4 linked regions of the Homo sapiens genome follow. The protein of the gene in region 1 interacts with the protein of each later gene in a biochemical or structural test. Each region holds a gene or a part of one and is shown in the gene's direction. Other genes may lie near its edges.

Evidence for each region.
Region 2: the proteins of RDX (region 1) and ITGB2 form a complex in vitro, tested with the Homo sapiens proteins (one study listed by IntAct).
Region 3: the proteins of RDX (region 1) and MCF2 form a complex in vitro, tested with the Homo sapiens proteins (one study listed by IntAct).
Region 4: the proteins of RDX (region 1) and ABCC2 form a complex in vitro, tested with the Homo sapiens proteins (one study listed by BioGRID).

Annotation. Positions count from the first base shown.
Region 1 is NC_000011.10:110,230,490-110,237,806, reverse strand, and holds part of RDX (radixin), read left to right. Parts: exon of another isoform or gene 1-102; coding exon of another isoform or gene 103-154; coding exon 155-315; intron 316-1,615; coding exon 1,616-1,708; intron 1,709-4,327; coding exon 4,328-4,570; intron 4,571-5,773; coding exon 5,774-5,938; 3' UTR 5,939-7,317. UniProt on the Homo sapiens protein: Probably plays a crucial role in the binding of the barbed end of actin filaments to the plasma membrane.
Region 2 is NC_000021.9:44,889,756-44,897,072, reverse strand, and holds part of ITGB2 (integrin beta-2 isoform 1 precursor), read left to right. Parts: intron 1-2,012; coding exon 2,013-2,102; intron 2,103-3,528; coding exon 3,529-3,669; intron 3,670-5,076; coding exon 5,077-5,264; intron 5,265-6,850; coding exon 6,851-7,095; intron 7,096-7,317.
Region 3 is NC_000023.11:139,705,109-139,713,164, reverse strand, and holds the start of MCF2 (proto-oncogene DBL), read left to right. Parts: upstream 1-4,997; 5' UTR 4,998-5,059; intron 5,060-8,056. UniProt on the Homo sapiens protein: Guanine nucleotide exchange factor (GEF) that modulates the Rho family of GTPases. Promotes the conversion of some member of the Rho family GTPase from the GDP-bound to the GTP-bound form. Isoform 1 exhibits no activity toward RHOA, RAC1 or CDC42.
Region 4 is NC_000010.11:99,777,547-99,785,805, forward strand, and holds the start of ABCC2 (ATP-binding cassette sub-family C member 2), read left to right. Parts: upstream 1-5,093; 5' UTR 5,094-5,298; coding exon 5,299-5,331; intron 5,332-7,061; coding exon 7,062-7,235; intron 7,236-8,259. UniProt on the Homo sapiens protein: ATP-dependent transporter of the ATP-binding cassette (ABC) family that binds and hydrolyzes ATP to enable active transport of various substrates including many drugs, toxicants and endogenous compound across cell membranes.

The DNA of each region.
Region 1 (7,317 bases):
TGTCTCAAGAAAACAAAGAGGTATATATGTATTTACATGTGTGCTAACTTTTAGAAATTGAACAGATTTGATTTCTTGCTACTATTTTAGCTTCTTTTGATAATGAGAATGATTGGAATTAATCACTGTTGGGGGGAATACACATATTTCATAGAACTAGAAGAACAGACTCGAAAAGCTCTAGAACTGGATCAAGAACGAAAACGAGCAAAAGAAGAAGCAGAACGACTTGAAAAGGAGCGTCGAGCTGCTGAAGAGGCAAAGTCTGCCATAGCAAAACAAGCTGCCGACCAGATGAAGAATCAGGAGCAGCTAGTAAGGAACTGTCTTCTTAGAGAAAAAAGTTTAAATAAAAGCATAGAGTGAACCCTCTAAAAAAGAAAAAAAGAAAAGCAACCATTTTGTGCTTTCTGGAGAGCAAGCCAAAGATAACATGTAACTTAATAACAAAATGTAGACAAAAACCTAGAAAATTTATTTCTGCCTAAACAAAAACCTAAAAATACAAAAGAATAAGGCATTTTTCTATAGATTATTTGTAAATGGAGTCTACTGTCAGCAAAAGGTTCTGATTCACTTTGACATTGGACAGGTTCGGTAATAAGTCAGTTGGCGTCTTTTGCTTTAGATAAATTAATATGTTATAGTTATATAATATAGATATATGTTATAGTTATATAATATATTATAGATATATAATATGTTATAGTTCCTATGAGGCCATAATTGGTTGGGTTTTTTTATTTAGTGGACTTGCAAATAATTAGATGTAAGCGTGTCACTTAAAAGATCCTGGATTTAAATATTAGTTCACACATGTACTTGCTATGTATGTGTCTTTGGGTCTTTCTGAGCCTCAGTTCCCTCCCTTTGAAAAGAGGAATGATGGCCGGGCACAGTGGCTCACGCCTGTAATCCCAGCATTTTGGGAGGCCGAGGCAGGTGGATCACCTGAGGTCAGGAGTTCAAGACCACCCTGACCAACATGGCGAAACCCTGTCTCTACTAAAAATACAAAATTAGCCAGGCACAGTGGTGCACGCCTGTAATCCCAGCTACTCGGGAGGCTGAAGCAGGAGTATTGCTTGAACCTGGCAGGCGGAGGTTGCGGTGAGCTGAGATTGTGCCACTGGGCTCCAGCCTGGGTGACAGAACGAGACTCTGTCTGAAAAAAAAAAAAGGAGGAATGATACTACCTGTTAATGATACTACCTGTTAGGATTATTGGGGTATTAAATGAGATGATTTGACAAAGTGCCATTTAAAGTATATAGCATTAGATAAATATTTTATCTTTTGTGGACTTTAACAAATAGTTTATTGATGGAAATTTTTTAAAAAAGCTTTTAAGTTACACATTTTAAGTTCCTGCTACTGAAAGCAGGATTAACTAGTCTGTAGAATAATAGTAATTTTTTAATTTTGTCTCCTTAGCTCATTACCTAAAGGACTTATTGTAAATAAGCTATTTAAGATCTTAAGAAATACTGTATTTTTTTAAATGGAAGGCTAAGAAAAACATAAACAGCCTAAGCATGTGCATTAAAACTTTGTTGACTTATAAGATTATTCAAAATATGTTATTTTAATTTTGGAATTATATTGTTTACTTTAGGCAGCAGAACTTGCTGAATTCACTGCCAAGATTGCACTTCTAGAGGAAGCCAAGAAGAAAAAGGAAGAGGAAGCTACTGAGTGGCAACACAAAGTAATCATTTATTCATTTACTAGCTTTTATTGAATAGCTTTTATACCCAGGATTATGCTGACTTTGTAGTGATAAGTGTAAGATACTGTCATAATTTAGAGTGGGAAAGATACTCGTGTTATGTGTATTGTAAATATCTATCTACAGATATAAACCAAGTACTTTGGGAACACAGAAGAGGTGATTAATTTCTGGGGGACCAGAGAGTTGTCGGGAGACCCATATACATTTAAGCTGGGTCTTGAATAATGAATTAAATTTTGGGGGTACAAAAGATTGGGATGTAAAATTGGGAATAGTTAGAGACTGAAGAAGTAGTCATTCTAGACAGAGGGAACTGAATGAGTATAGGAAGTATGAATGTATATAATAGATTTGAGGATAACCAATAAGCAGCCGAGGCTTAGTGTTGTTCAGAAATGTTAGGAGATGTGGCCCTCAAGTTTGATAATAGGGAATTGTGAAAGGCTTTAAATAAATGCTCTGCTACAGCAAGGCAGTGGGAGTATCGATTGACTTGGGGCTTAGAAGATTTCAAAACAGGATTGTAACATGATCAGATATGATTTTATAAAAACCATGTAGTGATCAGTGTGAAGAAAGGATTGGGATAGTGGATACTTAAGAGATAAAGACCCAAACTGAGGATGTGAAAATGAGAATAAAGAGGAATGGGAAGATATAAGAGACATTTTGTGGTCACAAAAAGGCATGGGAACCAGTGATTGGATATGAAGTTGAATTATTTTTATTTTTTTAGAGACATGGTCTTACTCTGTGTCCCAGGCTGGAGTGCAGTGGCACAATCATAATTCATTGCAGCTTTGAACTCCTGGGCTCAAGGGATCCTCCCACCTCAGCCTCTGCAGTAGCCGAGACTACAGGCATGCACCATCATTTTTATTTTTGTTGAGAATGGAGGTCTTGCTGTGTAACCCAGGTTGGTCTTGAACTGCTGGCCTCAAGCAGCCCTCCCATCTCAGCCCCCAAAGTGCTGGGATTGTAGGTGTAAGCCACTGTGTGCAGCTGACACCGAGATTTCTAATATGAGTCCTAAGTAGATGAAACCACTGTTGTCTAAAGTAGCACACAATTGTAAAATCAGGCTTTGGTTGGAGAGTGGGGGAATATAAGATAATGAGAGTTTAATTCAAACAACATTAACTCTTAACTGAAAAGATAATTTTTTTACCCCCAAAGATGATATTTAGTTTTAGAAGATGATTTTTCTACAATAAAATGTACTTATACAGAAAACAGTTTTCTTGCACTCTTAAGTAAATCTTTGTAGCAGTTTAAATTTCATTGGGTAATTTTATATGTATTGAAAATTAGTTATATATAAATAAAACTACAAAAGGAATGCTACTGTTAATTTCCCAGTTACTCTACTTGTTTATTAGAATTTTTTAGATCCCTTTTAGGGATGATTTATGAAATTTAGAGACACATAAACTTTAAAAAATTAGCATATTACAGATATCAAGTCTGTGAATTATAGAAAATTAGAAAATGCACACAAAAGACAATTGTATTCCCATAAACTAGGGGAAATACTGCAAAACCTTAGTACATATTCTTCCAGGATACTTCCTGTTTATATATTCAACATGAAATCTTACTGTATGTACTATTTCATTTTAGTCAATTTTCATCTCAGAATATTAGACTATATTAAGAATTTCCCAAAAAGTCTCATAGCTAATTTGCCAGACAAGTGTTCAGAGGACTTTGCATTGTCTGTATTTGCTGTAAGTCTCTTTTAATGGAGGGCAGTTTCTCTTTTTATTATTTTGATTTATTGAAGGGACCTACAGAATGTCTCACCTCCTATATTTGTTTAGTTACTTCCTTGTGTCATTGACCTTATCCTTTAACTCCAGTATTTCCTTTGAACCAGAAGTTAGATCTAGAACCTGGGGAATTCAAATTAAATGTTTTGACTACAGTGCATCAAAGGTGAGACTTCCATATAATTGAACATCTAAACTGGAGTACTTTTGAGAAAAAGGGGGTATTGTTCATAATTACACCAGGACAACAGTGTAACAGGACTTTTCCAGGTAAACCAAGATAATATGATCACCCAAATAATTGGTGATGTTAGATATTTCAGGTTGTATCATATCAGAAGACACTTAATATCTAGTTAACTCACCATTAGTATTTTTTAGTGATCATTGGATTTGAGTAACGACAGTCTCATTCCTCCGTTATTCGGTTACATTTTCCCCTTGTGGCTCAAATAAAATCTATTGGGTGTGAGATTCTTAGGCATTATATGAATATCTATTTCTCATCAACTATTTGCACAACAGTTTTAGCAAACAATTGATAATCCTTGCCAGAATTAATAGTTCTTTTTTTGCATGTATGCTTGTTTTTCTTTTAATCTGTCACTTTGAAGCTCACAGAGTAATTCTAATAGGGTTTGCATAATAATGTTTTTGATTTTCTCTTTTACCTGTTGACATTCTTTTATGAAAATAGAGGTTTCATAAATAGGGCCTATTTTCATTACCTTGAAATACAGTTTCTATTAAAAAGGGAGTATAACTTGATTGTTTTGATTATTAATTTTTGAAGTAAGTTGCTCATAAACGTATTTTTAATGTTCAGGCTTTTGCAGCCCAGGAAGACTTGGAAAAGACCAAAGAAGAGTTAAAAACTGTGATGTCTGCCCCCCCTCCACCTCCACCACCACCAGTCATTCCTCCAACAGAAAACGAACATGATGAACACGATGAGAATAATGCTGAAGCTAGTGCTGAATTATCAAATGAAGGGGTAATGAACCATAGAAGCGAGGAAGAACGTGTAACCGAAACACAGAAAAATGAGCGTGTTAAGAAGCAACTTCAGGTATTTAAAATTTGCAGTTGTATGTGCATTTGAAATATAGTTTGCATTTTCCCCATCTTAGACAAACTTAGTTAAAAAGAATATAGAAGTTTTAATACTGGCTGCCCTTGTGATTGGTTTGTGGGTGTTTGGCCTATAGTCATGTTATTTCATTTCTTCCGTTGTGTGAACCCATTAGCAAATACCTGTTAGCTTTGTATAATCAGACCTTAACTAGTGAGTTATTTAATTACAGCTTGACCCATTTTAAAAGGTAGAAAGTATTCTAATGTCATGTTGAAAAACGTGAATTTAGTTTTTGATCAGTAATATGTACATTGAGGGCCAGGCGCAGTGGCTCACACCTGTAATCCCAGCACTCTGGGAGGCCGAGGCAGGTGGACTGCCTGAGGCCAGGAGTTCAAGACCAGCCTGGCCAACATGGTGAAACTCTGCCTCTACCAAAAATACAAAAATTAGCCGGGTATGGTGGTATGAGCCTGTAATCCCAGTTACTTGGGAGGCTGAGGTATTGCTTGAACCTGGGAGGTGGAGGTTGCAGTGAGCCGAGATCATGCCACTGCACTTCAGCCTGGACAATAGTAAGTGACTCTGTCTCAAAAAAATAAAATAAAATAAAATGTACATTGGAAAGAATGATAGTTAATATACTATGTTTAAGACATTACATAATCTTAATTATTTGTTGAGATTTTATATTGGCAAAAGGTCAGTATATTACATGGACATAACTAGGTCAAAGTAGAGGATTTTAATATTATGAGCTTTCTTTTTTCCCAATAAGTTATCTAATATTTTAATTGTTAAAATCTTTAAATATTAAAAGAAAATGAGGTGATAGTTACAATAAATGTATTAAGACTTTTGGAGAAGGCTTCCCTTGAGGTATAGATTTTAAATCTCATAGTAATATTAGTCTGTAATGGCTACATTGAACTTTTTAGCCATTTCAAGTATTAGATTAGAAAGTTAAGGAAATTTAGAATAATGTACAAAATACCATGGTTGATAAATGTGGAAAGGCCATGTGTATTCCTCCCTTACCACTGCCACCACTATTACTAAAACAAACTTATACCTAAAGAAAAAGGTTTCACAGTGGAAATGATTTGGTATATGTATTTTTGCATCTTAAAGCCATTTTCATAAATTTTTTTAAATCTAAGAAAAAAATAATAGTTGTACTTTTTATTTTTTAAATAGGCATTAAGTTCAGAATTAGCCCAAGCCAGAGATGAAACCAAGAAAACACAAAATGATGTTCTTCATGCTGAGAATGTTAAAGCAGGCCGTGATAAGTACAAGACTCTGCGACAGATTCGACAAGGCAATACAAAGCAGCGTATCGATGAGTTTGAAGCAATGTGAGAGCTGTTATTTTGCATATATGTTCTTCATAAGCTGAACCACCAACAGAGAAAAGCAGGCCTTTGCAGATATGATGGAATGCATCCCACCTTGCCAAAGCACTTACACCAGTTTGACTGTGCTAGCTAAAAGACAAATTTAAGGGGAGCTCTTCAACATTAAGGCAGTATGATATCATGCTTGGTTTTCTTTTTTCTTTTGGTCCAGGGAATGGAGAATGGTGTTCCATTGCCTCTTTTCACATTTTTTTTCTTTTTCTTTTTTTTTTCTGTTGAAGATTAACACTAATTATCACGTCTGACAAATGTGTATGTGTGGTTTCAGTTCTGTGTACATTTTAAAGGATAATGGTGAACATTTTAATGGGTTTCCCTTGCCCTTTCCATATTTAACCTATTTCCACATTCTCTCTCACTCACATTTTCTCAGTGTGCCCTTCTCTTATCTGCCATGTCCATAGCCATAATTCCACCATCATACAGATCAGGCAGTGTTTAAAATGATGGTAGGTAGCACAGTGGACAGTCTTTGATCATCATGTAGAATATGGCTATGAATCAGGAAAGAGATTAGAACATTTAATAATGTATGTACAGCTGGTGCTTAGTTTTTTTTTAATCTAAATTTAATTACCTTATTGGATATTTGATATTTGGTTATTTAATCACAGTCATCTTTAACAGCTTACACTGATTGGTGTTTTATCTCCTGTGATCCTTTGATGGCTTTTTTTGCCTACCATTTCACAGAGGTTTAGACAGCAGTAGTAGCTCCCTAGGAGAGTTTACTGATGAAACAGCCTCTGCAAGATTTTAAAAGTTTTGTTCTTTTATAGACTGATTTAGAAAAACAAATGATTAGTTAAAAAAAGAAAATATACATTTGTTGGTAACTAATGTTATTTTTTAAAACCTGGACCTTTTCTGGAAGGGCAGCATATAAAAACATCAGTCCCGAGGAGGGGACAACAATACTACCTCACTACTACATCTGTGATGACTGGTTGTTCAAACACAATGGAGTGTGTAAGGTATATGTTTTATAATTCATAACCATAGCCTCGATCATCAAGAAATACTTTCGAAATTTCATTTTCCTTCAGAATATCTTAAGAGTGCTAAATTTTTAACTGCCTTTTTGTCGAGTCAAACTGTGGGATTCTGATTTGTATTAAAATTGTAAGCTCCTCACTGGTATACTATCATCCTGGAGGGGTGTTGTATGGCTGAGCAAGAGAGAGAGAGAATGAGAGAGAGACTGTGTGTGTGTGTGTGTGTGTGTGTGTGTGTACTCTGTGTGTGTATGAGAGAGAGAAATGCTAACCTTGTAGCATGTGAAGAATGTCTGTACCTTGATACGATAGTTACATAATCAGTATA
Region 2 (7,317 bases), on another chromosome or scaffold:
GTCAGGCTGCCGGGACAGTGGGTCAGCGCAGGGCAGGGCTGGGGCCGGACATCCACAGAGACCACCTGCTGGTCAGGATGTCACAGCCCTGTGTCCCATCTGTAGGTGGCCATGACGGTCCCCTCCTCACCAGCAGTAGCAGGTCCCAATCCTTTGCCATTTGTCATGGCAGCCAGACTCCAGGCGATGGTGTGGCACCAGGGCCAGGCACTGGAGGCAGGTAGAGTGCACCCCATGCCTACTGCTGAGCCTTGGGGCACACAAGCCTTCCTCAGCCTTTCCTGGTCACCTTCGGGGGTGGTCAAGGCAACAGGCAGCGAGTGTGGACACACGTGCCACGCCCCCTCCGAGTGTGTTTCTGCACCAAGCGCACAGCAGGCTCAGCAGGACAGGATGTGGGAGGGCCCAGCTCTCCCAAGACAGGGATGGCCCCAGACTGGGACGGATGGAAGTGGGCGGTGGGCGGAGGGCGCAGAGGAGGGTGGTGGCCAGGCTGTGACCGGCCCCAGGAGCTCCATGGAAGGGACTGGGCCCATGCAGGGCAGTCATGGGAGGGTTTGGGCGGGGAGGTGACCCGACCATCTGCTCCGTGTTCCTGGAAGGTGAAATGATGCCGCAATCTTCCATGAAAGAAGCTGAGCATGTGTGAGCATGGGGGAGGCTGGCTGCGCCCCTGTGCATCTGGCCGGCCAGAACCGATGTCACCGGGCTGTTTAACACCCATGGAAACTCAGTAGAGTGCCAAGAGCCGATGGCTTCCTGGTGATTTTACTGTGATCCACCCTCGTGGGGCTACTTCCGCCTACCATCTGTGTGGTGGTAGGAATTCCCTACCTGTGTGGTGGAAATTCTGGCCAACACTGGCCACCATGCACGTCCTCCCAACCCAGTGATATTGCGAGCTTGAAATCCACCAGGCAGGATCACTCACACCACAGGCAGGAGTACTCACACCACAGGCGGGAGCAGTCACACCGCAGGCAGGATCACTCACACTGCAGGCGGGATCACTCACACCGCAGGCGGGAGCACTCACACCGCAGGCGGGATCACTCACACCGCAGGCAGGAGGACTCACACGGGCAGGCCTGGACAATGCTGCAGCTCAGGGCTTTGCTTTCTTTTCTTATCCTCATGATGCAACAGTAATTTTTTTTTTATTTTTTATTTATTTTATTTTATTTTATTTATTTTTTTATTTCATTTCATTTCATTTCATTTCATTTCATTTTATTTTATTGAGACAGAGTTTTGCTCTTGTTGCCCAGGCTGGAGTGCCATGGTGTGATCTCAGCTCATTGCGACCTCCGCCTCCTGGGTTCTCCTGCCTCAGTCTCCTGAGTAGCTGGGCTTACAGGTGCCCACCACCACGCCCAGCTAATTTTTGTATTTTTAGTAGAGACGGGGTTTCACCATGTTGGCCAGGCTGGTCTCAAACTCCTGACCTCAGTGATCCACCCACTTTGGCCTCCCAAAGTGCTGGGATCACAGGCGTGAGCCATCATGCCTGGCCTGGGTTTTTTTTGTTTTGTTTTGTTTTTTTGAGACAAGGTCTTGCTCTGTCGCCCAGGCTGGAGTGCAGTGGTGCGATCTCAGCTCACTGCAACCTCCACCTCCTGGGTTTAAGTGATCCTCCTGCCTCAGCCTCCCGAGTATCTGGTACTACAGGCATGTGACGCCACACCACTCTAATATTTGTACTTTTTGTAGAGATGGGGTCTTCTTATGTTGCCCAGGCTGGTCCTGAACTCCTGGGCTCAGGCAATCTTCCCACATCGGCCTCCCGAGTACTGGTATTCCAGGCGTGGCCCCTGGGCAGCTCAGGGCTTTTTACCCCCAAGAACCTCTTACCACACATCACTGACCACACACTCTGGGGACCAAGTGCAAAACTGCGTTGAGGACCGTCCCAGCCATTTTGCAGGTGCAGAAGCCCCTGGGGTGAGCCCAGTGCGTGGAGATGCCGTGGCACAGGTCCTAGCCGTGCCATGTCTGGTCTTCTTGCCCAACAGAAACTCACCGAGATCATCCCCAAGTCAGCCGTGGGGGAGCTGTCTGAGGACTCCAGCAATGTGGTCCATCTCATTAAGAATGCTTACAATGTGAGTCTCCCGCACCACTCAGCTGGGACCCATGGGGTGGCCAGCAATCTCCCCACTGCAGGTCAGCTCCTGCTGCAGGTCAGCAGGAGGGTGGTCTGGGAGGAAAGCCCCTGCCCCGTGGGCCAGCTGCAGCCTCCCGACCTGCCCTCAGGCCTCCAGGACACCCTGGCCCGGCACTTCCACGGGGAGCTCTGGGTCCTCTCTCGTTGATGTTGTGGGCGATGCTCCCTGAAACCTGAGCTCCGGACTCTTCATTCCAGACTCTTCTCTGCGGGTCTCTATGGAGAAGGGAGGTGGACAGCTCTGGTGGCAAACAGTGCAGCTGGGGCAGGAGGAGGCCACAGGAAACCCCCACAGTGGACTTGGGCCCTGGGAAGACACCCTGGGGGGTGGAATTCCTCTTGCTCTGTTCACCTGTCCTGGGCAAGCTCCAGAGAAGCCCTTAACCCCTGAATTTCTCCCTGGTGCACGGCCCATCGAGCTGCACCCTGGGCTGCTCCCCTGGGGAGCCCATGGCCCTGGTGGGCATAGGTAGGCATAGGTGCGCACTAGGTGCCATTCAGGGCCCCAGGCACCAGAGGTCCCGACTGCTCTGGAAATCTACCCCCAGGTGAGAGATGTTCTCAGAATTCTGGCCTGGATCCTTCTAGGCCAAAGGTCCTGCTGGCTTGAGGGAGCTCAGCACGTTAGCGCCTCCGACAAACGTTGGGTCATTGAATTAAACTGAAGGCCCGTGGAGGAGGTGCCATTTGCTTCTCGTAGCCTCCCGTGAGCCCCAAACCCCCAGAGCAGACCCTCCTGGGTGCCAGCCACTGCCCGAGGTGTTTCTGTCCTTACACAGAGGATGCAGGTGACGCCACTGCCCTGGCCATTCACCCGATGCCCCTATGAACCTGTCCCTCTGCCTCCTCTCAATTTCCGTCTGTCTCTCAGTCTTTGTCTCTCTTTCTCTGTCTCTCTCTGTCTGTCTCTCTCTGTCTCTGCCCCATCTCTGTCTGTCTCTGTCTCTGCCTCTCTCTGTTTCTCTCCATCTCTCTGTCTCTGGCTCTGGCTCTGCCCATCTCTGTCTGTCTCTGCCTCTCTCTGTTTCTCCCCATCTCTCTTATCGCTTGAACAATTTATGCAGCTCCTGCCCTGTGCTAGGTCCTGGGGACTCAAGGCTGAGGAGCAGCAGAAGCTCCCACCCCTGAGGCTCACACCCTGGCTCCATGCTAGTCCCTGTGGTCAGGCTGTCTCGAGGGCAGGACTGTGGCCCTGGCAGCCCTGCCATCCTCAGCACATCCTGCTGTGCTCTCCTCTGTGTCATTAGCTGACACTGGGGACTTGCACTGAGAGGAGAAGTGGAGACGGGTCTAAACCGCTGGGCCAGGCAGGGCCAGGACAACAGAAACACTCGCCCCCAAGAGTAACCGCTCTCTGCCCGCAGAAACTCTCCTCCAGGGTCTTCCTGGATCACAACGCCCTCCCCGACACCCTGAAAGTCACCTACGACTCCTTCTGCAGCAATGGAGTGACGCACAGGAACCAGCCCAGAGGTGACTGTGATGGCGTGCAGATCAATGTCCCGGTGAGCCTGGCCACAAGGGTCCCCATCCCAGCTTGCTGAGGGGCTCTGGGGACAGCCAGAAGGAGCCAGGGTCCCCATCCCAGCACACTGAGGGGTCCTGGGGACAGCCAGAAGGAGCCAGGGTCCCCATCCCAGCACTCTGACGGGGGCAGGGAGGGGCACACAGGCATCAGAGGCTGTCTGGGAGCAGGCAGCATCCACTGGAAGGACCCTGTTTCTTTCCTTCACATCCTCTCTGCCGAGGCCAGACGCTTTCCTTGTGAAGCTGATGTCAGGAACGTCAGTGAGAGGGTGCCGAGAGGGTGCTTCTCAGTGAGAGGGTGCTGGGAGGGTTCTTCACACACGCCTTGGCCCCCAAGAGTCCTACTCATCAACCTGGAGCCCAAATCCCTGGGTCAGGCCACTGCAGACTGAGGGATGGAGTGATGGCTGCGCCCCCTGGGGGCAGACGCCGGACACACAGAACAGGCGCAAACGGCAAACCTGGGTAGGGTTAGTTGTCATGATTTTCTGCGTGTTTCATTCTGTTTTTTTGACAGAAACATTAAGGCATGGGCCACACAGGTGGTTAGGAATGGACACTGAGTTCCTTCTCTAATCTTTCAGGTTTAAGTTTATTATCCAATCATTTGTTGTTTCTTTTTGTTTTTTGTTTTTTGTTTTTTTTTTTGCTAGCTGTGAAATAATATTCAGCAAGACACTTGCTTTCATTGCATTTTCTTAATATGACTTTGGAATTCCTTCAAACATGTTTCTTGGTAAATGTTGCCTGTGGATTTTTTTTTTTTTTTTTTTTTTTGAGATGGAGTTTCGCTCTGTCGCCCAGGCTGGAGTGCACTGGTGCGATCTTGGCTCACTACAATCCAAGTGATTCTCCTGACTCAGCCTCCTGAGTAGCTGGGACTACAGGCGTGTGCCACCACGCTCGGCTAATTTTTGTATTTTTAGTAGAGACAGAGTTTCGCCATGTTGGCCAGGCTGGTCTCAAACTCTTGCCCTCAGATGATCTACCCGCCTCGGCCTCCCACAGTGCTGGGATTACAGGCGTGAGCCGCGGCGCCCAGCTGTCCCATGGATTCTCACCAGAACGTTTCCCTCATGTTGGGTGGTCTGAGTGGGAGTGTGCTCAGCTTCTCCTGATTTGCTGTCTGCGTGTCACATGTCTCTGCTGATGTGTGGCCGGGGAGATCCTGGTGCCGGCCAGTGCGGGAGTGCGGGCAGAGCACCTCCTTGCCGGCTGACTTTGGCTCTCGGATCTGAGCATCAGCTCTTCCTGCTCCTGGTCACCCCTTCCTCCCCACGCTGAACCCCCCAGGACCCCTGCAGAGGCCAGGAGGTGAGGGTTGGGAGCTGGGCTGCCACCCTGGCCACCGAGGGTCCCCACCTGAGCCCAGCACTGCCCTGCAGATCACCTTCCAGGTGAAGGTCACGGCCACAGAGTGCATCCAGGAGCAGTCGTTTGTCATCCGGGCGCTGGGCTTCACGGACATAGTGACCGTGCAGGTTCTTCCCCAGTGTGAGTGCCGGTGCCGGGACCAGAGCAGAGACCGCAGCCTCTGCCATGGCAAGGGCTTCTTGGAGTGCGGCATCTGCAGGTGAGGCGGGCGCAGGTCCCTGTTGAACCATCCCCGAGCCCCACCCCACAGGGCAGGTGTCGGCAGGTGAGGTGGGTGCAGGTGGCTCCATCCCTTCCCCCACCCCACGGAGCAGGCATCCTGGGGGCCCCCTTCTGCAGGAGGTGGGGAGATTTGGGATTGGAACCCAGAACCCCTCGGCAAGCCCTCACCCGTGCTCCTGAGCCAGGGCACCAGCAATGCCAGCCTGTACTCTACACTCTCTGGCCATGGAGGACCCAAGGCAGGGGACTTGTGGGCAGGAGGACCCCCTCACCAGAGGATGGAGGCCCATCTCAGGGGCACAAGGAGTCCCCGCTGGGCGTGCCCATGGCCTTGAGTGGGTCACTTTCTCTGCCCGACCTTCCTTGACCCTAGGAGCTGGCTTCTCTCTGACCTTGGGGACCCAAGGCCATCAGGCTGGCAGCCCTGGGGCATGGGTGGCTAGAGAGCCTCCTGGGACAGGTGATGGCTTCTGGGAGCCTGGGCCCCATAGGCCACCTCTTGGGCGTGCACACCCCCTGCCAGGCGTGGGCACCCCACCTCAGGGAGAAGTGGGGGACAGGTGGACCCAGTGGGGAGGTTCACATGGCACTCAGCCAGGCGGCCTGCCCGGGGGCTGGATGGCTGTCCCCCTTTCCTTGCTTGCCTGGCCAGAGCTGCTAGGCTGACCTCCCAGGACTCTGCCCCCTTTGCTCTGGTCACCTCCTCCCCTGTCCTGACCGCAGTGCCAATCCACGTCCTGGTGGCAGTGCCCTTCCTCACCTTCAGGTCCCTGCTGCCCCCAGCCTCCTCCCATATCTCAGGACAATGATGGTCTCTGTGGTCTTGGTGGTCTCTGTTGCTGTCCTCGTGCCTCAGTGGCCACCCCGCCCACTGTCCTGGGTGTGCAGCCCTGGGGCGGCCTCTTCACGGGACTGTAGGGGTGACTCAGTCGGAACACTTGGCAGGTGTCGGGGGGTGCCCTGCCACAGGTACTCAGACACTCGGTCCTGCAGCTTCCTCCTCTGGGGAGCAGGAGAGCCCGTGGCAGTGCCGTCTCTGAGGATGCCTCAGGGTGTGTGTGGCTCCTGCCTGCCAGCGGCTTGATGCCAGCTTCCACATCTGTAAAAACCCCTTGTCCCTGCATTCTCCCACAACCTGGCCTGTCAGTGCACGAACGCAGGAGGGAGGGCGGGGCTGTGGCAGGAGGCAGTGCCGAGTCCCCACTGGCCACCATGTGGGGCACGCAGGAGCAGACACCAGCCACTCACAGAGCACCGGTATCGCAGCACAGGCCATGTGCATGGCTGCAACACAGCTCCACAGTGAGCCTGCCGAGCCACTGCATGCGCAGGCCAAGGCCAGGTGTCTGCTTTCCCCTCGGGACATCCTGGGGAGGGAACGCGGGGCCCCTGCACGTTTTGAGCACATTTAGTCCGTGGCAAGTGCTCAGTAGGCCTCGAGGAAAGCAAAATGTGCCATAGGGGTGTTCTCCACCAAGGGCAAGGGGCCTGGAGGACAGGGCGGCTGTCCCTTGTCCCACATCACTGGGGGGAGCCTGACCTTGGGGCCCCTCCTGTCCCCAGGTGTGACACTGGCTACATTGGGAAAAACTGTGAGTGCCAGACACAGGGCCGGAGCAGCCAGGAGCTGGAAGGAAGCTGCCGGAAGGACAACAACTCCATCATCTGCTCAGGGCTGGGGGACTGTGTCTGCGGGCAGTGCCTGTGCCACACCAGCGACGTCCCCGGCAAGCTGATATACGGGCAGTACTGCGAGTGTGACACCATCAACTGTGAGCGCTACAACGGCCAGGTCTGCGGCGGCCCGGGTGAGCCCGTGGGTCCCTGCTGGACAACGGCCGTCCTGCGGCACAGACTTGGTGTTGGGGGGTGCGTTCTGGACCATTCAACGAGTGGAACAGAAAGGGGGGATCCTGAGGACAGACAGTGCAAGTCTCGCCCAGCCACCGGGCGTCAGCAGGAACTTGGATGGCCCTGCACCCCGCCCTGCCTCAGTTTCTGTGTCCATGAGGACAAGGCGTCCTTGTGGG
Region 3 (8,056 bases), on another chromosome or scaffold:
CAAAATAAAAAATAAAATCTTTATTAATAAAAGTGTAGCAAGTTTGAACAGTTTAGTACTGTACTCCCATTTCGTATGTACCAGCTTTAATCTGAAGTCCTGTTGTAACTTTGTTAGCGAACCCTTTTTGGTTGATACTGAAATCTGCACTGTGGATCCATAACAGCTGTTCTTTTGTGTGAAACACGGTACAAGTGAAGTGCTGTGCCTAACACCAGGGCTCTGATGCCTCTGTTCACTTACAATTTCATTTTCAAACATGGGAAGCTTCCATGATAGAGTAACTGAGTATTGCTTGGCTGCAAATTAAAGACAGCGATGTGGGAACACAAGTTCCCTGTGCGTTTTCTGAGTGAGCACTTTCTCGGATGCCTTTCATTATCCCTCTCCTCTCAACTCTTCCACTCCCTAGCTTCTCTTGTACAGTGGTCAGTGGGGTGATTTTCTTGTACCTCCACTCTCTGTGCCCTGGGTTGGGAATATCACACCAGTATGGTGCCAATGAGTGTTCACAGAGAGTTGGAGAAAAGAGGTGGCAGAGATTAAAATGCATAAATCATAGAATTCCCAAAAGAATATTTTTAAGACAAGTTAACAAGTAACTCTGTCCTTTTGGTACAAGAAACAAACCAGAAAGCAAACAAAACCCATAAAAACTATTTGTTCAAATTGTGAAAACTATCTTGCATTATTATATTGTAAGAATAAGTTTAGAAAACTGTTGCACTTCAGGCAAAAGTCCATTTTAATTGACCTGAGGTTTTGCTAAATTCAATAAGAATTTTATTTTTTTCTGATTATACTGACGATACTTGCTCAAAATCAAGCAATACCTAATAATATAAACATAAAAGTCACTTAGTATCACAACCCCCCTGAGGTAACCATATTTTTTTGAATATGTATATGTATATATACACATATACACAACATATATACATATATAATTTTGTATCTATTGAACTATGTTATACACACTATAATTTTAAACCATAAAAAGTCGTATGATTGTTCTATATAAATTAATTCATATATATATGACTTTTAAATAGCTGTGTGGCATTTCATTTATTTCATGCACATGGTTTAACTATTTCCTAGTTTATTATATAAATTTCTCCTCCTCCTCTTGCCTGCTATTATGAATAACATGGCAATGTATTCTGTACAAAAATATTTCCATTCCTGCCCGAGTAGCTTCTTGGTGTAAAGTCAAAAATGTGGAATTCCTGGGGCAAAAGATATGTACATGACAAACTGTCTTTGAGAAAAGCTATATGAATCTGTGCCCGCAACAACAGTCAGCCAGTTTACCCTCCCCATTCTCAGCATTAAGTGCTCTCCATCTTTAATCATTCCTCATAGATCTGGGGTCAGCAACCCAGTCAGCATCTTTAGGGCTGTAGGGAAAAAAAGGTAATGAAGAATGTCTGACCAAGACTATATGTGGCCCACAAAGGGGGACATTTCTATTATCTTAGCTGTTTACAGAAAAAAAAATTTGCCAACTCCTGGATTAAAGGAAAAATAGTGTTTACTCTTGGTAATATTAGCTTTTCTTTGCTTATTTGTGAGTTCCAATAGATTTTCCATGTACATGTGGGTGTTTATATTTCCTCTTTTGTCAATTACACTTCCTTCACCCATTGTCCTATTAAGTTGCTCACCTTTTTTACTCATTATAATTCTGTATATTAGAATATGTGCATGTTGTCATGTATTTCACAAATATTTTTCTCTGTGTCAATTAATCATTAAGAATGTATCTTTTATATTGCACAGAAAGTTTTAGTGTTTATGCAATCAAAGCAAATATTCCGAGAATGATAGCAGGTGCTACTTTAGATATGGTAGTAAAAGAAGTTCTCTCTGACAAGGTGACATTTGAGCAGAGAACTGAATTAAGTGAGAGAGGGAGCCATTCATATATATGGATGAAGGGGAATCCAGGCCATGTGAACAGCAAATGCCCAGACCCCAAGATAGGAGCTTTCATGGCATATTGGAGGTACTGCCAGGAGGTCACTGTGACCAAAATGGAGGGAGATTGGTAGGAGTTGAAATTAGGTATGGAAGGATGAGAGCATGTAGAGCTGTGTAGACTATGATAAGGACATTAGATTTGATTCTGAATTCCAGTAGAAGTCTGGAATATTATGAACAGAGGAGTGACATAATCTCACTTAAGTTTTAAAAGGATCACTTCTATTTTTGGTATCTTTTAAAAATATGTGTTATATTTTCTTGTTGTAAAGTAAATGCATGTCCATTTTCAATTATATAGATAACATACAAAAAAGAACCAAGTAAGGATGATAGTATTTTAATAAGCTTTTCTGGATATATATATTTACCTTTATCTACATATATTAAGGTTGGGACATACCTTAAAGATCTTCTGGCCCAGAAATAAATCCAGGCATTTATGGTCAACTGTTCTTCAAAAAAGTTGCCAAAAACACACAATGGAGAAAAGACAGCCTCATCAATAAATGGTGTTGGGAAAACTGGATATACACATGCAAAACAATGAAATTAGACACATCTCACACCATGTGCAAAAATCAACTCAAAATGGATTAAAGACTTAAAGGTAAGACCTCAAACTGAATGTTCTCACCACAAAGATATGACAAATATATGAGGTCATGGATATGCTAATTACCCTGATTTCATCATTATACAGTGTATACATGTATTAAAACATCACACTGCACTCCATAAATTTTATATATATATATATATATATATATACATATGTATGTATTTGCTATGTGTCAATTCAAAATAAGTAACATAGAAGAAAAGTTTCTTGACATTAGTCTAGGCAGAGATTTTTTGGATATGACCCCAAAAGCACAGACAACAAAAGGAAATATAGACAAATGGGATAGCATTAAACTAAAAAGTTTTCTGTACATCAAAGGAAACAACTGAGTCAAAAGACCATCTATGGAATGGGAAAAATACTTACAGACCATACATCTGATAAGTGGTTAATACCCAAGATATATAAAGAACTCAACTCAATAGCAAAAAGTAGTAAATAACCCAATTAAAAATGGTCAAAGAACCTGAGTAGACATTTCTTAAAAAGAAGACATACAAATGGCCAACCAGTATATGACAAAATGTTCAACATCACTTATCATCACAAAAATGCAAATTAAAACCACATTTAGATAACATTTTGCACCTGTTAGGGTAGCAATTATCAAAAACATAAGATAACAAGTGCTTGTGAGGATGTGGAGAAAAGGGAGCCCTTGTTGGTGGGAATGTAAATTAGCACAGCCACTATGGAAAACAGTATGAATGTTCTGGCCCAGAAAAAATCCAGGCATTTATGGTCATATTATCAATTACCATATGATCCAGCAATGCCACTACTGGGTATATATCCAAAGAAAATGAAATCAGTCTGTCAAAGAGATATCTACACTCCCATGTTCATTGCAGCACTCTTCACAATAGCCAAGATATGGAAGCAACCTCAAGAAAATATTTTTTATATATACTGTATATATATATATATATATATATATATATGAATGATAGCATTCGTGTCTATATAGTGTATATATATACGAATAGCATTCGTATATATAGTATATGCTATATATGCTATGTATATAGTATATGCTATATATGCTATGTATATAGTATATGCTATATATACTATATACATAGTATATATAGCATATACTATATACATAGTATATGCTATATATACTATGTATATAGTATATGCTATATATGCTATGTATATAGTATATGCTATATATGCTATGTATATAGTATATGCTATATATGCTATGTATATAGTATATGCTATATATGCTATGTATATAGTATATGCTATATATACTATACTATATATACACAAATGCTATTCAGCCTTTAAAAAAGAATGAAATTCTGTCATTTGTGACAGTACGGATGAACCTAGTGGACATTATGCTAAGTGAAATAATCCAGACACAGAAAGAAAAATACTGTATGATCTCACTCCTATGGGGAATCTAAAAAAGTCAAACTCATAGAAGTAGAAAGTAGAATGGTGGTTTCCAGAGGATGGGGCAGGGTTTTGGGAGATGTTGGTCAAAGGATGCATCATTACACGTAGACAGGAGGACAAAGATCAAGAGATCTATTTTTTAATTTTTAAATTTTTTTTCATATTTTTATTTGTATATATTTTTTGAGATGGAGTCTTACTTTATTGCCCAGGCTGGAGTGCAGTGGTGTGATCTCAGCTCACTGCAACCTCTGCCTCTTGGCTTCAAGCGATTCTCCTGCCTCAGCCTCCTGAGTAGGTGGGATTACAGGTGTCCGCCATCACACCCAGCTAATTTTTGTATTTTTAGTAGATATGAGGTTTCACCATGTTGGCCAGGCTTGTCTCGAACTCGTGACCTCAAGTGATCCACCCACCTCGGCCCCCCAAAGTGCTGGGATTACAGGTGTGAGCCGCTGCGCCCTGCCAAGAAACCTATTGTACATCATGATAACTATAGTTAATAACAATATATTGTGTACTTGAAAACTGCTAAGAGAGTAGATTTTACATGTTCCCACCACAAAAAGGATACATATGTGAGGTAAAGAAAGTATTAATTAGCTTGATTTAGCCATTCCAGGATGTATACATACATCAGAAATCATATTGTACACCATACAATTTTTATTTGTCGTGTACAAAAAAAGATATGCCCAGCTTCTTCTGCATTTTGTGCAGAAGTATTTTGTTTTCAAACTGTCGGGCTAACTCTTGAGTGGGCGTTCTGTTTCTCCAGATTTGTCCTTGTAAATAAAAAAAAAAATTAGGTCTCCTTCCTCTACTGTGATACAGTGTATGATTTATAATTTTGTTTCTGGGTTCTACTTCAAGTCAAGGCTTCTCTACACTTTCAGTTGCTGACATCAGATTGGCTTTGAAACTTTTTTTCATGTTAAGAGCAAGAAGGCTTTTGTTCTTGGAGCAGGCAGAGAGTATTGTACATTCTTTTGGCCGAGGAAACAGAATGAGCTGCGACAGTCTTAAGGACAAACATTTGTGGTAAGTATTTCTTTACCTTAGAGTAATATAAGAAATGGATTGGGGCAATGAGTGGGTCAGTCTTGGAATATTTTTATAGATAGCATCCCCCATAGCCAGTCATTTTCATTCTTGTAGTAGTTTCCCCTTTTCCCCAGAATCCCCCATTTCTAGGACCAATGATTTGCAGGACACAGTGCAGTTCTTGTAAAGGTGTATCTGTCCATACAGACCGCAATAGCCTGCTTTGGGTTTCTCTGACAGTTCTTTGTCTACTGTTCAGTTTTTTCTAAAATAATTAGGATTCCCAAGTAAAGGCAGGTGGGAATTTCTCAACTCTGGATTAGAACTTCACCACTGTAAACCTGGAACTATTAGTATAACAAATCTGGTGTGCACCTGGGCTTCATGGGATGGCTGTACCTTGGTGTGGTTCCTATGCAATGTATGGGCCTCAGTCTCTGAGCCGTCTAGGGATTAGGACTTGAGAAATTGCCTTGTGAACTTGCATATGGTTGGCTTATAAATTTGGACAGCAGATTATTTATTTTCAGTGGGTAAAAGACCATTCCATTATTTGTGTCCAGTTCTTTTTAAGCACGCAAATTTTCCAGACCAAGAAGAACTACCTTGGTCCCCAGAAGGTAGCCGGGGGGATGTAGACTTGGAGAGCAAAGAAAAATGGGAGGTCTTGAGGGCAATCTTCCAAAAGAATATGGTGATGTTTCTCACATTTTTTAAAGCAGGGTCTCTAGTGAGGCAAAACCACATTTTATTCTTGCCTCTATAGTATTTATTTGTGGAGGTAGAAAGTTTCTGGGGAAGGAGTGGGACTGTTTATATGAAGAACCTAGAGGTCTTCTCAGAATGAAAGGATTGGAAACTCCAACCCTTTTTTTCTCTGATATGCAAGGTTCTTGAAAGTTGCTTGAGGGGCCCAAAAAGATCCTAAGGAAAACTCACCAAACTTGGTGAGAAAGAGGTAGAAAGGGATGGGAGCAGCTCCCTCCCAGAGCCCTCCATCCTTCTTTTTTCATCTGAGCTGGTTACTCTGCCGGCTAGCTGCACATCTCTTTCTGAAATTCCCTTTGTCTGTGCTCCTGTATCGGATCATTATTTCCTAGATTCATTGTCTTGCTCTTCATTGATGTACTTCATCATTTTTTTGGGGAATACATTCTCTACTAACTTCTTTATATGGGTTATAAACTTTTATTAATAATAATAATAATAATAATTATGTCTGAAAATATCTTAGACAACCTTTATTTTTGTTTGAGAGTCTGACGCAGTATAAAGTTCCAAGCTGAAAAACCTTTTCCCCCCTGATTTTGTGTTTATTTTTCCATTAGTTTGTAGAATCCAGTGTTGCTATTGAGAAGTTCAATGTCATTTTGTTTCATTTTTTTTCAACTTTAATTTTAGATAAGGGGGTACATGTGCAGATTTGTCATATGGGAATATTACATGATGCTGAGGCTTAAGGTACAGATCCTGTCATCCTGGTAGTGAGCATAGTACCCAATAGTTGTTTTTTTTTTTATCCTCCCCACCTCCCTGCACCCTCTAGTAGTCCACAATATCTGTTGTTCCCATATTAATGTCCATGTGTGCTCAATGCTTAGCTCCCTTCATAAATGAGAACATGTGGTATTTGGTTTTCTGTTCCTGCACTAACTTGCTTAGAATTATGGCCTCCAGCTCCGTGCATGTTGCTGCAAAGAATGATTTCTTTCTTTTTTATGGCTGCCTAGTATTCCATAATGTATATGTAGCACATTTTCTTTATCCCATTTACCACTGATGGGAACCTGGGTTGACTCCATGTCTTTGCTATTGTGAACAGTGCAGTGATGAACATACAAGTGCATGTGTCTTTTTGGTAGAATAATTTCTTTTGGGTACATACCCAGTAATGGGATTGCTGTGTCCAGTGGTAGAATTGTTTTAAGTTCTTTCAGAAATCTCCAGACTGCTTTCCACAGCGGCTGGACTAATTTACATTTCCACCAACAGTGTATAAGTGTTTGCTTTTCTCTGCTGCCTTGCCAGCCAGCATCTGTTGTTTTTTGACTTTTTAGTAATAGCCATTCTGACTGGTGTGAGATGGTATCTCATTGTGGTTTTGATTTGCATTTCTCTGATGATAGTGATGCTGAGTATTGTTTCATATATTTGTTGGCCATTTGTATGTCTTCTTTCGAAAAGTGCCTGTTCATGTCATTTGCCCACTTTTTAATGGTGTTATTTGGTTTTTACTTGTTAATTTTTTCAAGTTCCCTATAGATTCTGAGTATTAGACCTTTGTCAGATACATAGTTTGCAAATATCTTCTCCCATTCTGTAGGTTGTCTGTTTGCTCTGCTGATAGTTTCTTTTGCTGTACAGAAGCTCTTTAGTTTAATGAGGTCCCACTGGTCTATTTCTGGTTTTATTGCAATTGCTTTTAGGGACTTAGCCAAAAATTCTTTACCAAGGCCAATGTCGAAAAGAGTATTTCCTAGGTTTTCTTCCAGGATTTCTATAGTTTGAGATCTTACATTAAAATCTTTAATCCATTTTTAGTTAATTTTTGCATATGGAGAAAGGTATGGGCCCAGCTTCAATCTTCTGCATATGGCTAGCCAGTTATCTCAGCACCATTTACTGAATATGGAATTGTTTTCCCACTGCTTGTTTTGGTTGGCCTTGTCAAAGATCAGATGGTTGTAGCTGTGCAGCTTTATTTCTGAGTTCTCTATTCTGTTCCATTGGTCTATGTGTCTGTTTTTGTACCACTACCAAGCTGTCTTTATTTGTTTGTTTGTTTGTTTTTGAGACTGAGTCTCACTCTGTCGCCTAGGCTGGAGTGCAATGGTGTGATCTCAGCTCACTGCAACCTATGCCCCTGGATTCAAGCAATTCTCCTGCCTCAGCCTCCCCAGTAGCTGGAATTACAGGTGCCCGCCACCACGCCTGGCTGATTTGTGTATGTTTTAGTAGAGATGGGGTTTCACCATGTTGGCCAGGCTGGTTTCA
Region 4 (8,259 bases), on another chromosome or scaffold:
TAGGCATGTGCCGCCACGCCCAGGTAATTTTTGTATTTTTAGTAGAGACGGGGTTTCACCATGTTAGCCAGGATCGTCTCTAACTCCTGACCTTGTGATTTGCCCACCTCAGCCTCCCAAAGTGCCCAGGATCCCAGCCATAGAGTTTTAAATACACATTTACAATGAATCCAAGTCCACTTTCAAAGAACACTATGCACTTTACAGGTAGTGCGAGTACCTTATAATAACAAAATAATCCTAATTCTCCCTCCCATCCCTTATGTCTTTGCTGTCATTCATTTTTGTTATACATAAGCATTTAAAAATATACACAGAAATATGCATGATTGAATACATTGTTGCTATTATTTTGAGTGAACTGCTATTTTTTAGGTCAGTTAGAATTAAATAATTTATTTCACCTTATTTCTTCTCCAGTGCTCTTCCTTTCTTTATGTAAATCCAAATTTCTGACCTATATCATTTTCCTTCTCTCTTAAGCAGGGGTCCCCAGCACCTGGGCCACAAACTGGTGCTGGTCCAAGGCCTGTTAGGGCTGCACAGCAGGTGGTGAGCAGCAGGCTTCTTAGCTCCACCTCCTGTCAGATCAGCAGAGGCATGTGATTCTCATAGGAGTGTGAGCCCTATTGTGAAGTGTGCATGTGAGGGATCTAGGTTGCACACCCTTATGAGATCTAATGCCTGATGATCTGAGGTGGAACAGTTTCATCCTGAAACCATTCCCCACAAAATTGGTCTCTGGTGCCAAAAAGGTTGGGGACCACTCCTCTATAGGAATTCTTTTAACATTTCTTGCAAGGCAGGTCTACTGGCAACAAATTCCCTCAGTCTTTGTTTGTGTGAGAATGTATTTATGTATTTATTATTATTTTATATATATATATAGAGAGAGAGAGAGACAGAGAGAGAGAGAGAGAGAGAGAGAGAGAGTGTCTCACTATGCTGCCCAGGCTGGACTCAAACTCTTGGATCAAGCAATCCCTCCACCTCAGCCTCCTGAATAGCTGGGACTATAGGCACGCACCACTGTGCCTGGCTTCTCTTTACTTTTAAAGAATAATTTTGTGGGTACAGAATGCTGGCTGTTGGTGGCTTTTTTCTCTCACCACTGTAAATATTTCATTCCATTCTCTTCTTGCTTGCATGCTTGCTGAGGAAAAGTTGGACATAATTTTCATCTTTTCTCCTCTACAAGTAAGGTCTTTTTCCCCGGGCTTCATTCAGAATTTTTTATCTTTGATTTCCTGCAACTTATATATGCATGCCTGGTTGTAGGGCTTTTGTTTGTTTGTTTGGCATTTGTTCTACTTGGTGTTCTCTCAACTTCTGTGATCTGTGATTTGGTGTCTGAAATTAGTATGAGGGAAATTCTCTTTCATTATTGCTTCAAATATTTATTCTGTTCCTTTCTCTGGTTATTCTCTTCCTGCTATTTCCATTACACATATGTTATACCCTTTGTAGTTGTCCCATAGTTCTTGGAGATTCTGTTTATATAGTCTTACTTATTTTTGCAGTTTTGGCAGTTATTTTCAAGTTCAAATATTCTGTTTTCAGCCTTGTTCAGTCTACCAAAAAGCCCATCAAAGGCATTCTTTATTTCTATTACAGTGTTTTTGATCTCTAGTATTTATTTCTTTTTAGTTCTTTCTTAGAATTTAAACTCTCTGCTTACATCGACCCATTTGTTCTTGTATGCTGTCTACTTTATCCATTAGAGCCCTTGGCATTGTGATCATAGTTGTTTTAAATTTCTGGTCTGATAATTCCAACATCCCAGTCATATCTGAGTTTGGTTCTGAGGCTTGCTCTCTGTCTCTTTAAAGCCTTTTTTTTTTCTTTTTTTTTTTTTGCCTTTTAGTATGCCTGGCAATGTTTTCTTCATAGCTGGACAGGATATACGGAGTAAAAGGAAGTGCTGTAACTAGACCTTTAGTAGTGTGGTATACAGTGGGGGAGGGGGAGAGGAAGAGTTCTATAGTTCTGTGAAGAGGTCTCAGTCTTTTAGTAAACCTGTGTCTCTAGACTGAATTTCACAAGTGCTTCTCAGTTCCTATCTGCCCCGATCCCTGTTAGGTGGGACGTGATGGCTAGAGTGGGCTGCAGCTGGGTATTTTCAGTTTTCATGTGGAAGGCTAGAAGAGACTGGAGTTCTTATTTCCCTTCTCCGGCATCATTTAGGCTCCTATAAATCAAGAGCATTAGGCTCTATTTAAACAGTTTTTCCCAAGGGCAGACTTTGTTTAGAAGAGAAGAATAGAGTGTCCAGGTATATTTCAAATGGTTACTTTTCCTATCCCCTCTGCCAGGGACATGGAAGCAGGAGGAGATTTTTCTCTAATAAAAAGAGAACAATATTTGAGAACCTCTTTGAATTCCTATGGGTAAACTCATGAAAGTGTGGAGATCATCCCCTCCTTATGGCTGAGTCACTCTGGAATTTTTCTCTCTCAAACTTATCTACACTGGGCCTCCGGCAATTCAATTACAGTTCAGGTTTTCCTGCCCTAGCCCTGGTTCCTGCTGAGATTTCTTTTCTTTTTTCTTTTTTTTTTTTTTTTTTTTTTTGAGACAGTGTCTCTGTTGCCCAGGCTGGAGTGCAGTGGCGTGATCTCAAGTCACTGCAAGCTCCGCTTCCCGGGTTCACGCCATTCTCCTGCCTCAGCATCTCCGAGTAGCTGGGACTACAGGCGCCCGGCACCACGCCCGGCCAATTTTTTGTATTTTTAGTAGAGACAGGGTTTCACTGTGGTCTCGATCTCCTGACCTCGTGATCCGCCCGCCTCGGCCTCCCAAAGTGCTGGGATTACAAGCGTGAGCCACCGCGCCCGGCCCCTGCTGAGATTTCTGCGCCAGTAAATTGTGATTTTTGATATTCTCTTGTTTATCTCTTCAGTTTGCCCTGTAACCTTATCTCTCTACAGATCTAAGAAGAGTTATTGATTTTTCTATTTGTTCAGATTTTTAGTTATTGTTAGGAAAGATTCATGACTTCCTGGCTCCTTACTTGCTTTTCTCATTCAATATTCCCTATGAGTACATATTTTATACTTTAAGCAACTTGTTTTGATGAACATTTAGATTCTCCACCCTCTCTTTTTTTGATTACTTAGAACGTTTAGGCCAGACACGATGGCTCATGCCTGTAATCCCAGCAGTTTGGGAGGCCGAGGCGAATGGATCGCTTGAGCCCAGGAGTTTGAGGCTCTACAAAAAAATTAAAAAAAGAAAATTAGGTGTTAATCCTTGACCTTATATTTCTCAAAGTTTTACCAAGAGTTCCCCCGGACTCCGAGTCCTACCACCAGTGCCAAGAGAAGTATGCAGCCTAAAGGTGCACCCTGCCCCAAGTGAGATCTCTTAGTTCCACAGCTGACCTTTCCTGGCTCTTCTGGTGAGTGGTATGGAAAATGATGGAGAAACTGCCATATGTTTTCATAATGGTCAGACCAATTTACATTTCCATCAACAGTATACTAGGGTTCCCTTTTCTCCACACCCTTGCCAGCACTTATCTTGTTGTTTTTTTTTTTTTTTTGTAATAGCCATCCTAATAGGTATGAGGTGGTATCTAACTGTGGTTTTGATTTGTGTTTTCCAGATGACTTGTGAAGTTGATTCAGTTGTCATATACCTGTTGGCCATTTATATGTCTTCTTTGGAAAAGTGTCTGTTCAAGTCCTTTGCCCACTTTTTAATTTGTTAGTGTATGTTTGCTATTGAGTTGTATGAGTTCCTTATAGTATATTGTGGATATTAACTCTTCATCAGTTATATGGTCTGCAAATATTTTCTCCCACACTGAATGCTGCCTTTTCATTTTTTTTATGTGTATACTTGACTTTTAAAATCAGTAACAAGGTCCATACAATTCACATTTGGCTGATATGCCTCTTGATTCTCTTGTAATTTGTAAGTTCCTTTGACTCCTTTCCTTCTTTTAATTTATTTATTAAAAAATGGAATCATTTGCACTATAGAATCTCCCACATTCTGGATTTTGACAATTGCATTCCAATGGAGTCCTTTAGCATGTTCCTGTGTTTCTTATAATCCGGTAGTTAGATCTAGAATTTGACCAGATTTAAGGCCAATTTTTTTTAGCTAGGATACTGCATGGGTGGTTATGTTTTAGCTAGGATACCGCATGGGTGGTTCATGATATCATGAAAAAAGCATGTTCTTAAAGCAATTTAAGTGACAGTACAAAAGGTTGGGTCAGGTGGGGCACGGTAGCTCATGCCTGCAATCCCAGCCCTTTGGGAGGCCAAGGCAGAAGGATTGTTGAAGCCTGGAGTTTGAGACCAGCCTGGGCAACATAGTGAGACCCCGTCCCTACAGAAAACATTTTTTTAATTAGCTGGGCTTGTTGGCATGTGCCTGTAGTCCCAGCTACTCAGGAAGCTGAGGCAGGAAGATCGCTTGAACCCATGAGGTCAAGGCTGCAATGAATCATGATGGCAACACTGCACTCTAGCTCAGGCAACAGACCAAGACCCTGTCTCAAAAAACAAAAAACAATAACAAAAAAAGAAAAGGTTGGGTCGATGACAGTTTCTAGCGACTGATGCCACCACTCTGTTTACAGAATCACCCCTCTCCTCTGGCCCTGATGTTTTATCATGATATCATATTTACAATGCCTGGCAAAGGCTTCATTCCCATTTGGCATACTACCTCTCAGGCAAATAGAACTTTTGAAAGCCTGTATTATGTATATAACATATAGGCTCACACTGGATAAGCTATTTTATAACCTGACTTCTTCAAAGAAAGTTTACATCATGTTTAAACCATGTTTTAGATTCTATATTTTTAATTAAAAATCTAAGGAAGAAGGATATTTCACATTTCTATAAACTCTAAGATCTTGCAGCAGAAGCGAAACTGCACATTTAGGGGTGCCTGCCCCTCTACTGATGCTGCCCTTTGTGGGTCATATGTCCTTAGGAAAATGAAAGACTGTGCACTCTTGATTTGTTGGCCAGCTCTGTTGACATCTTTCAGTGGTTCCTTTTATGTATGGCCACTCCTACAGAGGCCTCTTGTACTTTGGGAACTGGTGAGTCTCCCTGTCCCTAGGGCTTTTTAGTCACATGTCCATCCACTGTTTCAATGTAACATGCATCTAGGCAAGGTTAACGATTAAATGGTTGGGATGAAAGGTCATCCTTTACGGAGAACATCAGAATGGTAGATAATTCCTGTTCCACTTTCTTTGATGAAACAAGTAAAGAAGAAACAACACAATCATATTAATAGAAGAGTCTTCGTTCCAGACGCAGTCCAGGAATCATGCTGGAGAAGTTCTGCAACTCTACTTTTTGGGTGAGAAATTACATTTATCTTCATATTGACTCTTCTCAGACTCAGAACAAGTGGTAGTTAGTTAACTTAGGGTGGTCACCAACAAGAACCAGAAATGTTAGATGTGCAATTGGTCTAAAGCTCAGGCTTTTTAGAAAGCATAATTCATAATATCTCCAGAGGATATAAGATCTGGGAAATGTAATGCAAATTATTCTCTGTCATATGTTTTTTTATATCAGACTCTTGTACTAGCTAGTCGCAAAATTGCCTTCTCTAAAGAGAAACAGGTAAAAACCTTCCAATTTAATCCGTGTGAGGAAGGAGAATTGTTGTTGCATACTTTGCTAGTAGAAGGAAGAGAAGATCCGTGACTGAGTCTTGCTGAGACATGTTGATGTTGAAATGATAATGATAAGTTCTAGAACTGGCAACTAATGATATGGACTAGAAGTTGAGTCTAGGGATGCAACTTTGGGCATCATGAGCATTGAAATAATTTTTGAACAACTAGAGTTGGGTAATATTGTTTTTAAGGAAAAGAAGAGACACCACTTAGAGGGTGAACAAGAACAGTGTAACATTACGGAGTCATAGATAGCAAAAAATTTCAAGATAGGGGCCAATCAACAGTATCAAAGGTCTAGTGGAATAGAAAACAAAAAAGGACCTTAGATTTAGTGATTTTAGTAAGGGTTTGGTGAGAAAGTATCATCTGCAAACTCCTAGCCTCAGCATCAGAATCACCTGGGGCAATAAATGTAGTTTAAGTATCTTAAGTGATTCTTCTGAATTCTAACATTTGATAACCTTATATAGAGGTGAGAGGGGCAGGGATGAGATAGCAGAGCACCTGGGCAGCACCTCGTGTCTTAGAAAGGACCTGGGTCCCAAGACCCTCGAGGCCAGGAGTGTATACCACGGCAAGGTGGATCTTCATGGGCTATAGTATCTAGACAGGCCATCTCTTGAGAATTCTTTCTGAGAACTACCTGACAAACTTTCTTGGTCAGGGCATCGCAAGCAATTCTTTAAAGAGTCTGTATAAATAATCATATAAAACAATTTTTAACTATTTATAGGAAAAGAAAAATCCACACTCATGTGACTCAGATACAAGAATTGGTGCCCACCCCCCACCCCCCAACTTCCACTTCACAAGACACTTCCATTTATCGCAGAATGCAAAGACTGCACAAAACTTGCTGGTTGGAAGCCTTCTGTCCAACAATGCTGTTGTCACTGCTGTGCTGAAACTGGCCAGGTTTTTAATGTAAGCGCTTTGGGCCATCAGAGAGCAAATGTTACAGTATGACTAAGCATTCTCCCTGCATGGCGCCTGCATGTTTGAATATCTGCCAGTGAGTTCAGTTAGTGCTAGAAACTTGAATAATTTTTTATATCCCAGGGAACTATTCTGTCCTTTAAACTGGGGAACAGTCCTTCTTCATCCTATAATTTGGCAAATGCAGTGGTGAGGTTTACTCAGAATAGCTGGTACAAAATTCACTTAGAATCACAAGAAGACACGTTTTTGGAGGGTGGGTTGGCCAGAAAGTGACTACATTTGTCATTAAATGGTGAATTTGTATCCATGTGCACAAATAGGAAAATACGGATAGTTAAAGGGTAAGGCTGGATATGGATATGGAGTTGAATTTAAATTGTGTGAAAGCAGTGGGATGTGCTGCAGGGTGGTTTTCTGTCTTCACAATGCATGTATGCAACAATCCTTCCCCTTTGGTCTCCAGAATTCCTCATTCCTGGACAGTCCGGAGGCAGACCTGCCACTTTGTTTTGAGCAAACTGTTCTGGTGTGGATTCCCTTGGGCTACCTATGGCTCCTGGCCCCCTGGCAGCTTCTCCACGTGTATAAATCCAGGACCAAGAGATCCTCTACCACCAAACTCTATCTTGCTAAGCAGGTAAAGTTAACACCACTGTTTCTGAACTCTAATTCCTTGGTGCACAGTAGAGACATTTTCTTGGTGGTTAGTGTTCTCTTCCTTGTCTTTAAGCAGCTGTCCCAGGTGCCATTGTCTCAGGTAGAGCCAGGCTCAAGGTTTCCCTCACGGGTCCCTTGCTGCATTTCTTAAATCAAAGTGGCTTTGATTTTTGCATAAGAATGGTGACTCTTAATTCTTGTGGATATTGGGTTCCCTAAACACAAAGGGCATATAATCAATCAAATTATCTTTATAGCATTTGAGAAATGAACACTGGATCACCTGTCTTTAAACAGCTCTAATAAATCAGTGGACTGTAATTCAGTTGGCATCTACCTCGTGAAAATGAGCTAGATAATGGATCTCCTGCCCCACTGAGGCAATCCAACTATCACTCATCTTCAAAAACTTGGGTCCGAAATAAGGTTTCCATTTTCCCCGCATATTTGATGAGTCAGGATGATCACTCACAGTAGAAGGAGGAGGGGTAAGTGTGCACAGTGACAAGCACGAGTAGGGAAATAATGGAAAGGACAGGTCTGCGGGAGAGGCCCAGGAGGGGCCAGGAGGGGAGGAGCCCTCAGCCAGCTGCACCAACTCACTCAGGGAAGGGTCTTGTGGGAACCCAAGACCCTCATTCGAGGTTGTAAAATTATCTCATAAAATCTTCCATCTGCTTCTTTTCACTATTTTTTTTTCTATCTCTCCTTATTATCATTATTACTACCATTTTAAATGGAGTCTCACTCTGTTGCCCAGGCTGGAGTGCAGTGGCACTATCTCGGCTCACTGCAACCTCCACCTCCTGGGTTCAAGCAATTCTTATGCCTCAACCCCTCCCGAGTAGCTGGGATTACAGGAGCACGCCACCATGTCCAGCTAATTTTTGTATTTTTAGTAGGGCGGGATTTCGCCATGTTGGCCAGACTGGTCTCGAACTCCTGACCTCAAGTGATCCCTCCTGCCTTGGCCTCCCAAAGTGCTGCGATTACAAGCCTGAGCC